Linked DNA regions of Homo sapiens: region 2 is linked to region 1. A link means that fine-mapping ties the variant in region 1 to the expression of a gene that starts in the linked region. Tissue or cell type: lung. Region 1 holds a variant in brackets; the other region holds the start of a gene. All regions are shown on one strand. Distances are between the middles of the regions.

Region 1 (5,000 bases):
TATTTCCTCAATGAATAAATCTGTTCAGTGCTATGAAGAGCTAAAAAATAGAACATAGGCCAGGCACAGTCATGTGTACCTATAGTCCTGGCCACTTGGAAGGCTGAGATGGGAGGATTGCTTGAGCCCAGGAGTTTAAGTCTAGCCTGGGCAACATACCAAGACCTTGTATCTTGAAAAAGAAAAAACAAATGGTTTCAAGTTACTAGAAATCCTTTGTAAAAATAATTTTTTAAAAATTGTCTTTACGAGGTTTATAACTTCAGCAGGATGATGAAGAAAAAGAACAATATGGATTTGGGGCCGGGTGCGGTGGCTCACGCCTGTAATCTCAGCACTTTGGGAGGCTGAGGCAGGCGGATCACAGGGTCAGGCGATCGAGATCATCCTGGCTAACACGGTGAAACCCTGTCTCTACTAAAAATACAAAAAAATGAGCCGGGCATGGCGGCGGATGCCTGTAGTCCCAGCTGCTGGGGAGGCTGAGACAGGAGAATAGGGTGAACCCGGGAGGCGGAGCTTGCAGTGAGCCGAGATCCCGCCACTGCACTCCAGCCTGGGCTACAGAGCGAGATTCCGTCTCAAAAAAAAAAAAAAAAAAATACATGGATTTGGTTTTCGTTTTTAATTTCCCCTACTTTATGTGATTTGACCTTTTGATCATGGAAGCTGAGTCTTTTTTTTTTTTATTTTATTTTTTTTTTTTTTTGAGACGGAGTCTCGCTCTGTTGCCCAGGCTGGAGTGCAGTGGCACGATCTCGGCTCACTGCAAGCTCCGCCTCCCGGGTTCAGGCCATTCTCCTGCCTCAGCCTCTCCAAGTAGCTGGGACTACAGGCGCCCGCCACCACGCCCAGCTGATTTTTTGTATTTTTTAGTGAAGATGAGGTTTCACGGTGTTAGCCAGGATGGTCTCTATCTCCTGATCTCGTGATCCGCCCGCCTCAGTCTCCCAAAGTGCTGGGATTACAGGCATGAGCCACCGCGCCCGGCAGAAGCTGGGTCTTTTTTCATGCTATACAACCTGGAACTGGGGAACAGAGTAGCTTAGGTACTAACATCAAACAAGATAGAAGTGGAGAGTATTATTGAAGAACACTGAAAACAACCTCTTACGTAACAGGATGGAGGGACAAGGGGGAGCCCAGGTCCTTGTGAAGTCACTCTGGTCTATAGATCCTTTCTTTTGTAGGTTTTGGTGCCTGGGACCATATCTGCAACATGAGATACAGAGCCTTTCGGCGAATGCAGGTGCCCCTTTATCTTTTCAATTTTGTCAAGATGTCTTGGTCTGTCTTAAGATATCGGAGTCCACTTTCTCCAAGTGTTCTGTGAATGTAGGAGGAATCAGACAAGGTTCACATTCAGTCCGAGGAAGTGGGGAGAAGCATTCCCAGGAGAATTTTCTTCTCATTTTATATTTTCCTACCAGAGAGGCTGACAAATTGTGATTTTCTGCTCTGTCACTTGGGAAAGCAATATTGTTTCTGATTGGAGTGATGTTTCCCTCTTGGTTTTAATGCAGACTTTCCTTTTGTGTTTCCAGGTGTGGGACGCCTGCTCAGAGGCCCTGATAATGTTTGATAAGGATAATTTAGATGACATGGGCTATATCGTGGAGAATGATGTCATCATGCATGCTCTCACTAAGCAGTTGGAGGCTGTGTCTGGTGAGGCCCCCATCTTCCACCTTGCATTCATTGGGAAGTGAACTGCTTAGGACTTACTGGAAGAAAGGATCTCTTTTACAATATTCAGTGTCCACCATAAAGAAATCCTCTGATGGCCGGGTGCGGTGGCTCACGCCTGTAATCCCAGCACTTTTGGAGGCTAAGGCGGGCGGATCACGAGGTCAGGAGATGGAGACCATCCTGGCTAACATGGTGAAACCCTGTCTCTACTAAAAATACAAAGAAACAATTAGCCAGGCATGGTGGCGGGCGCCTATAGACCCAGCTACTTGGGAGGCTGAGGCAGGAGAATGGCGTGAACCCAGGAGGTGGAGCTTGCAGTGAGCCGAGATCACGCCACTGCACTCCAGCCTGGGCGACAGAGCAAGACTCCGTCTCAAAAAAAAAAAAAAAATTCCTCTGATGATTATTTCACGGTGCTGGATACTTAGAAGTGGAATTGCTGGGTCATATAATAATTCTATGTTTAATATTTTCAGAAGCTGCCAAACTTTTCTGAAGAGGCTATACAATTTCACTTTCCCACCAGTCTATAAGGGTTCCAGTTTCTCCACATCCTCACCAACGCTTATTTTCCTTCTGTAAAAAAAAACTGTAGCCATCCTGTTGAGAGTGAAGTTGTATCTCATTGTAGTAGTGGTTGCATTTCCTTAATAACTAATGATGCTGAGTATCTTTTCATGTCCTTACTGGCCATTTGTGTATCCACTTTGGAGAAATGTCTGTTCAAAATATTTTGCCTGTTTTTAAATTGGATTATTTGTTTTTGAGTTATAGGAGTTCTTTATATATTTTAAATATAAATTTATCAGTTATGCGGCTTGCAAATATCTTAATGTTCTAGAGAGAGAAAAATTGGAAGTAACTTAAATGCTTTTTGATATTGGATAGTAGTTCATGCAGTGAACCATGATGTAGCTTTTAAAGATAATTTGAATCTAAAATTTAATAACTTATAAATTTGTTCCATAATATATTGGGTCATATGATCACACTTGTGTGTGCATGTACATGCATAGGAAATTGTCTGGAAAGTCATACACCAAAGCTGTAATTGCAGTTGTCTCTGAGTAGTTTAAGGGTGATTTTTCTCCACTTGAACCTTTCTTTGTTGTCCAGACTTCTACAGCGAGCTTATTATTATTATTATT[A/T]TTTTTTTTTTTTTGGAGATGGAGTCTCGCTCTGTCGCCCAGGCTGGAGTGCAGTGGCACAGTCTCGGCTCACTGCAAGCTCGGCCTCCCAGGTTCACACCATTCTCCTGCCTCAGCCTCTGGAGTAGCTGGGACTATAGGCGCCTGCCACCGTGCCCAGCTAATTATTTGTATTTTTAGTAGAGATGGGGTTTCACCGTGGTCTCAATCTCCTGACCTCGTGATCCACCCACCTCGGCCTCCCAAAGTGCTGGGATTACAGGCGTAAGCCACTGTGCTGGCCCTCTATTATTTAAATCGCTTTGTTGACAGTATGACTGACTGACATACAAAAAGCTGTAAATGATGTATACAGGCTGATGTTTTTGGAGATAGTGTTTTGTTTTGTTTTGAGACAAGGTCTTGCTTTGTCCTCCTTGGCTGGGGTGCAGTGGCTTAACAATCCTCTCACCTCAGCCTCCTGACTAACTGGGACGACAGGTGCGCACCATCACGCCTGGTTAATTTTTTGTAAAGATGGGGTTTTACCATGTTGCTCAGGCTGGTCTTGAACTCCTGGGCTCAAGTGATCCTCCTGCCTCAGCCTCCCTAAGTTCTAGGATTACGAGCATGAGCCACCCGTGCCTGGCCATAGAGCGTATTGTTTTTATGACCAGAAAAATAAAATGATTTCCAGCTGGAAGAAAATCTTTTGTAGTCTAGGATTTGTTTCAGCCTATGGTATTCCCAGCCTGTCTACTGTAAAAGCAAACACGGGCTCATTTAAGCGTAGAGTGAAAATGGAGGCGCAGAAGCATGTGGACAGTAAGAAAGAGTGCCTCTGACAGAGTTCACTGAGAACTTCAATGTCTTTTTTTGACATTGAGTTATCTCTGTGGCTTCTGTCATTTATTAGCTCAGACCACAGCATTAATTACTGATTTTTTTAATCTTAAATGACAAGACACTGCTGTCCTGGGACCTTGCTTTAGGTTTAGTTATGGCTTTTTCCTCAGCCTATGTGGCCCACCTTTCTAATTTTTTTTCCTCTCTTTTGACCTCCCCAGACCGAGTGACGGTTCTCTACAGGAGCAAAGCCATTCGCTATACCTGGCCTTGTCCATTTCCTATGGCCGACTCCAGCCCTTGGGTTCATATTACCCTAGGTGATGGCAGCACCTTCCAGACCAAATTGTTGGTAGTTGAAGATTCTTATTTTGCTAGGGGTCTTGTATATCTACATCTTATCCTAGATTCTAGGGACTCTGGTTTTCGATTTAAGCTATAGTTTAATTTTAGGCAAAACTTTTGGTTATGAGGACCAGTACCTATTCAGGCCAGCTCAAGTGGAGATGGTCTCATCGTAAATCCTGTACAGGGAGCAATCTCATGGGCCGTCTTAGGTTGTGAAATAACAGATAGCTGGGCCTCACAGGACAGGCACCAGAGTGTTGGGAATGGAGGCTGTTCTTTCCCTCTGAGGAGTCTGTGGTCATTGATCTCTTGCCTCTCATTTTTCTCCTTTCTGCTCACAAGCTTCCCTTTTTGCATGGTAGCCATTCCTAACCCTACATCAGAACTATTCAGCTCCAGTGTGTGCCCCATACTGAAACTTTCCTTATTGCTCTCTAGTTCAAATATCAGGAGGGCCTGGCTGAGTTTAACTCATGGCTGGCACCTGTTCAGTCATGTCCAGCTTTGGCTCTGTTGGCTGAGGCTGATGTGACAGTGCAGGGGCTCCACCTCTAGGGGCTGTGAGTGAAGCAGGCCTGATGGAATTATCCTGCCACACAACAATCAGAGCTGGAGGAAACTTTAGGGAGCAGAGAAAAACTTCTGAAGCAGTTTATGAAGAGGCTGGAAGACTTAGCAGGCTCATGTGTCCATGCAGATAGGTGCAGATGGTCACAACTCCGGAGTACGGCAGGCTGTTGGAATCCAGAATGTGAGCTGGAACTATGACCAGTCTGCTGTTGTGGCTACTCTGCATTTATCAGAGGTAAGATCCTGAGCTGCCATCTGGGGACTTTATTCATAGGCACTAGGTACTTCACAGAGAAACTTTTCTCCTCTCTGTTGCAGGCCACAGAAAACAACGTAGCCTGGCAGAGATTTCTTCCCTCTGGGCCTATTGCTCTGCTCCCGGTAAGAGGTCCTTCTGACCAGTCCGCCCACATGCAT
Region 2 (5,194 bases), 62 kb after region 1:
CATGCCTACAGTCCCAGCTATGCCAGAGGCTGAGGTGGGAGGATCACTTAAGTCCAGGAGGTCGAAGCTGTAATGAGCCATGATCCTGCCACTGTACTCCAGCATGGTTAAGAGTAAGACCCTATCTCAAAAAAACCATCAAAAAACCCAAAAACCAATAAAAGAAACTATAAAGTACTATAACTAAGGTACTACGCATACATTAATAATCTTGTTATAGTCAAATTTTTATGTTCATACATTAATCTGTAAGCCTATGTTCAAATGAGGAGTCTTGGACTGACTTTCATATTATAAAGTTACCAATTTCTAGAATAAATTCCAAATATACAGCCTGTGACAGAAGATGCCCTACTCTCTTTTCTGCAGCTTATCAACAGTGTGCTTTTTCAGAACCTTACACATACAAAATTAATGGTAACTTTATAGATTTTACATCAGAGATAAACTCTTCAATATATGGCGATTCCGCCTATGGACTCACGGGAGTGTGAAAGTATACCAGAAATACACTCAGAAAAAGCTATGATCGGCCAGGCGTGGTGGCTCACGCCTGTAATCCCAGTACTTTGGTAGGCCGAGGCGGGCGGATCACCTGAGGTTGGAAGTTCGAGACTAGCCTGACCAAAATGGAGAAACCCCGTGTCTACTAAAATTACAAAAGTAGCCGGGCATGGTGGCGCATGCCTGGATTCCCAGCTACTCGGGAGGCTGAGGCAGGAGAATTGCTTGAACCTGGGAGGTGGAGGCTGCGGTGGGCCGAGATCGTGCTATTGCACTCCAGCCTGGGAAACAAGAGCGAAACTCCATCTCAAAAAAAAAGAAAAGAAAAAGCCATGATCATGCTGGCAGATGGTATGTATAATAAGGTTTACGCCAGCCTGACCAACATGGAGAAACCCTGTCTCTACTAAAAATACAAAATTAGCCAGGGATGGTGGTGTGTGCCTGTAATCCCAGCTACTCGGGAGGCTGAGGCAGGAGAATCGCTTGAACTGGGAGGTGGAGGTTGCGGTGAGCCGAGATCGTGCCATTGCACTCCAGCCTGGGCAACAAGAGCAAAACTCTGTCTCAAAAAAAAAAAAAAAAAATTTTACAGCCGGGGGCGGTGGCTCATGCCTGTAAATCTCAACACTTTGGGAGACCAAGGCGGGTGGATCACCTGAGGCCAGGAGTTCAAGACCAGCCTGGCTAGCATGGTGAAACTCTGTCTCTACCAAAAATACAAAAATTAGCCTGGCATGGTGGCACGCACCTATAGTCTGTTACTGGGGAGGCTGAGGCAGGAGAATTGCTTGAACCCGGGAGGCAGAGGTTGTGGTGAGCCGAGATTGCGCCATTGCACTCCAGCCTAGGCAACAAGAGCAAAACTCTTGTCTCAAAAAAAAGGTTTACAGCCGGGGCGGTGGCCCACGCCTGTAATCTCAACACTTTGGGAGGCCGAGGCAGGTGGATCACCTGAGGCCAGGAGTTCGAGACCAGCCTGGCCAGCATGGTGAAACTCCATCTCTACCAAAAATACAAAAATTAGCCGGGTGTGGTGGCATGCACCTGTAGTCCCACTTACTGGGGAGGCTGAGGCAGGAGAATCGCTTGAACCAAGGAGGTGGAGGTTGCAGGGAGCCGAGATGCCCCACTGCACTCCAGCCTGGGTGACAGAAGACTCTCTCTCAGAAAAAAAAAAAAAAAAGTTTACAAGGCTTATCATTACCAAATCGGCATGTTCCCTCAGAAGAAACAGAAATTCAGAAACAGAAACTATGCAAGTGGGAAACAAGGCGGAGGGGAGTAATTAGAGGTCAAAGACATCGGGAAGGAGTGTACGGATTAAGTCCTCCCTAGAGAAATGGTGACGAAGGATCTACAACCACATTTAAAATAAACTTTTTAATTTGAAATGGAGTATAACAGAGCAGAGCTTCAACCACAAGTCTCCTAACTATTGGCTTGGCACTCAGAATACCGTACCTTCCTTAATGACTCACTGACTGACTCTCATTGAAAAATGAGAATACTTGTGAGTACACTCCTTTTCAGAGGTGTATTCGGGATTTCAGGAGTCGGGGAGGCAAGTTGAAGAGCTTCCAACTTTATGCAACTTTCAGGAAAGAAGGCTGCGGACCGGTATTAGCAAATGGAAATCCGGGGGGCGGTCGTGGGCAGGAAGTATCGGCCACACAGGACCTAGTGAGGCCGAGGACCCTGCTCCCGACCTCGGTGGCAGCACTCCCCTCCCCGCCCGGCTCCCTGGCGTGCCGCTGCTCTTCGGAGGCTGGCAGCCTCGCCCTCAACCACCGCCCTCGGGAAAGTCCTCGACTGCCTATCAAAAAACATTTGGCCTGGGACGTCCGCTGGCTGCACTATCCCTTACAGAATCAGCAAGGGTGAAAAGCCAGGAAAGAGATGCAACCCAAAGGAGTAAGGCAGTGCCGGGAGCGGCAGAAGCGGAGCGGGGGCGAGGGCAAGGTAGCCGCGGCCACGCTGGCTGCGGCATGGAGACACGGGAGGAACGGGACCCGCGGGCGGCACGGGAAAGGGCTGCGGCTCAGACCACTGCGGCGGGACGGGCGGATCAGCGGGGATCTAAGTCTCCTGAGGCAAGGGCGCCCCGACCGCAGCGACTCCTGACACACCCAGGCCGCAGGACGAAGCGCTACCGCCTGGGGCTGCCAGCTCCCGCCTCCCGCCCGCAGAGCCCGGGCCCCACGTAGAGGATCCGGCGCCGCCGACACTCGCACACTCACCGCGCGCGCGCCACCCTTGCGCGGCAGCCCGCCGCCCTCGGCGCGACCTCCGCCCCACCCCGCGCGCCGCGGCGCCTGGGCTACGTCACGGGCGCGTGCGCTCTCCGCGCGCCGTCAGCGGCGCGGGTGGGGCATTGCCAGCTCGGCGTCCCGGTTCCCTTGGAGACAGAGCTGGCCAGGGCGGCCGCGGCTGGGCAACTACGACAGCGGAGCCCCTGGGGAAGCCAAGATGCCGTCGAAGGGAAAGGACAAAAAGAAAGGCAAGAGCAAAGGCAAAGACACGAAGTAAGGAGAAGCCACCCGAGAGTCCCCTCTCCCTGGGCCTGCCTGGGATTTCGGGTCTGGGGCTGGCAACCTGGCGCCCCCCGCGCCGGCCCACTCGGACCCTCTCCCCGGCTCTCCCGGCTTGTGAGGATTACAGCTCCCATGTCCATAGTCTGGCAGATCTCTACTATGTGTTCAGATTATCTTAAACGTGTAGAGGATGTATAAAGTAGTTCCTTGGGCCTTTTCAGAGATCTCTTTTGGTTCAAAGGGGACACCTAAAGTATTTTACCAAGTTGGATAATTATTGAGGTTTTCCCAAACTGATCAGAGCCACTGAGGTGGGTAATGTTCTAGCACTAACCCCTTACAGGCCTGGAGTTGCTGCTAGATTGCTACTAGCCCTATTGGGGGACCCCGGTGGTTTCTGGACACGTTGGAGTCATACGTGGTGTCCAGCAACAACACCATATATGGGAACACAGAGTTGGCACCAAACTTGAGATGTTTGTAAAGTAACTTAAGAGAGTAATTCATGCTCAATACAGAAAGTTTGGGAAACATGGGAAGTACCAAAAGAAAAAACAAAAATCACCTGTAGTCTCATTATCCAAAAATAAACACTACTATATTTTGGAGTATTCTTTTTTAATAAAACGATAGCCCAATGTACATACTTATATGTGGCTTTTTTCTTCCCATTTGTTAATGTAAGTATTCTTTTATGGTATTTTTTTTTTGTTTTTACATAACTGCACAGTTAGTCTAGCCCTTAAAGTGCCAAGGGCTTATCACATTCCTAGAACTCACTAACATATGTTTTCAGATTTTGACCATGCTTCTACAGTACACATTTGAACAATGAGGAACACTAAGGGTAAGAGACCTTATTCCTTGGATTTTCCATGACCCATTGTTTGAGAAACCTGGCTTTGTTTCTACAGTGAGTATCAGTGGTCCTATTAGAGTGTCTAATTTCTTGCATCAAGTACTTTTTTTTTTTTCTTGACACCAAGTTTTGCTCTTGTTGCCCAAGCCGGAGTGCAATGGCACGATCTCAGCTCACTGCAACCTCTGCCTTCTGGGTTCAACCAATTCTCCTGCCTCAGCCTCCCGAGTAGCTGTGATTACAGGCACCCGTCACCACGCCCAGCTAATTTTTTTATTTTTAGTGGAGACAGGGTTTCACCATGTTGGCCAGGCTGGTCTCGAACTCCTGACTTCAGGTGATCCACCCGCCTCGGCCTCCCAAAGTGCTGGGATGACAGCCGTGAGCCACCATGCCCTGTCGCATCAAGTACTTCGAGCCACTCAGACCTGATACCTGGATGGTCGTAGTGAGACAGTGTATCACTAGTGCCTAAATCATGCCAGAAAGGGACATCAACAGCTATAACAGGCTGAGGGGTTGGGAATGGAGCTGGCCTTAATTTGAAGAGAACAAAAGGTGAAAGTGGGACTTTGGTTCTCTCCACTGCAAACCCATTACCTCTGTGGAAGAGGACTGAGAACCAGAGGTAGGAAAGTGGATGTGGAGGGTGGCAGTATAGAAAGGTCCACATGTACATATGTGTGAAAATATTTAGAATTCAAATACAGGTGAAATATTCTTAAATATGTACATATTTATATATCATGGTACCTACCATATATAAGGGGGAGTGTTTTGTTAATGCTTATACAATAAATATTTAGAAAAATCTCTTCCTTTACCACTTTAATCTTTGAATCCATCCTTTTTCCTCTCCACCTCTATATAAATGATTATGGTTTCTCAGGCATCCTTAAAGCCCGGTGGGTGGGGCATCGTGGCTCATGCCCAGCACTTTGGGAGGCTGAGCAGGGGAAGATCACTTGAGCCCAGGAGTTCAAGACCAGCCTGAACAACATAGGAAGACCCTGTCTCTACAAAAATTTTTATTAAAAATTAGTTGGGCATGCTAACTCATGCCTGTAGTCACAGTTACTTAGGAGGCTGAGGTGGAGGATCGTTTGGGCCTGGGAGGTTGAGGCTGCAGTGAGCTGTGATGGTGCTACTGCACTACAGCCTGGATGACAGAGCAAGATCTTGTTTCAAAAAAAAAAAAAAAGTCCGGTGAACTGTGGCACCAGCTGATAAACTATTTAACGTATTTGCCCTAGTGACTTGACTTTTTGTCCAAGACCTAGCCCAAAACAAAACAAAA

Evidence for each region. PIP is the estimated chance that this variant, and not a neighbour inherited with it, causes the effect.
Region 2: ENTPD5 starts here. The variant in region 1 is fine-mapped to the expression of ENTPD5 in lung (TOPMed, PIP 0.92).

The regions. Positions count from the first base shown.
Region 1 is chr14:73,954,261-73,959,260 of GRCh38, forward strand. It overlaps COQ6 (coenzyme Q6, monooxygenase), which reads left to right. Exons shown (of 12, transcript NM_182476.3): 3 at 1,191-1,249; 4 at 1,545-1,668; 5 at 3,887-4,017; 6 at 4,711-4,818; 7 at 4,902-4,964. It also overlaps a transcript of ENTPD5 not described here. Among named protein-coding and RNA genes, the nearest start is that of COQ6, 6.5 kb to the left of the region's middle. The variant A/T (reference allele first, on the strand shown) is at 2,841.
Region 2 is chr14:74,016,506-74,021,699 of GRCh38, forward strand. It overlaps ENTPD5 (ectonucleoside triphosphate diphosphohydrolase 5 (inactive)), which reads right to left and starts at 2,783. Exons shown (of 16, transcript NM_001249.5): 1 at 2,745-2,783. It overlaps BBOF1 (basal body orientation factor 1), which reads left to right and starts at 2,844. Exons shown (of 12, transcript NM_025057.3): 1 at 2,844-3,029. The coding sequence starts at 2,974. RefSeq lists silencers at 2,141-2,435, 2,351-2,420, 2,461-2,600, 2,611-2,680, 2,711-2,960.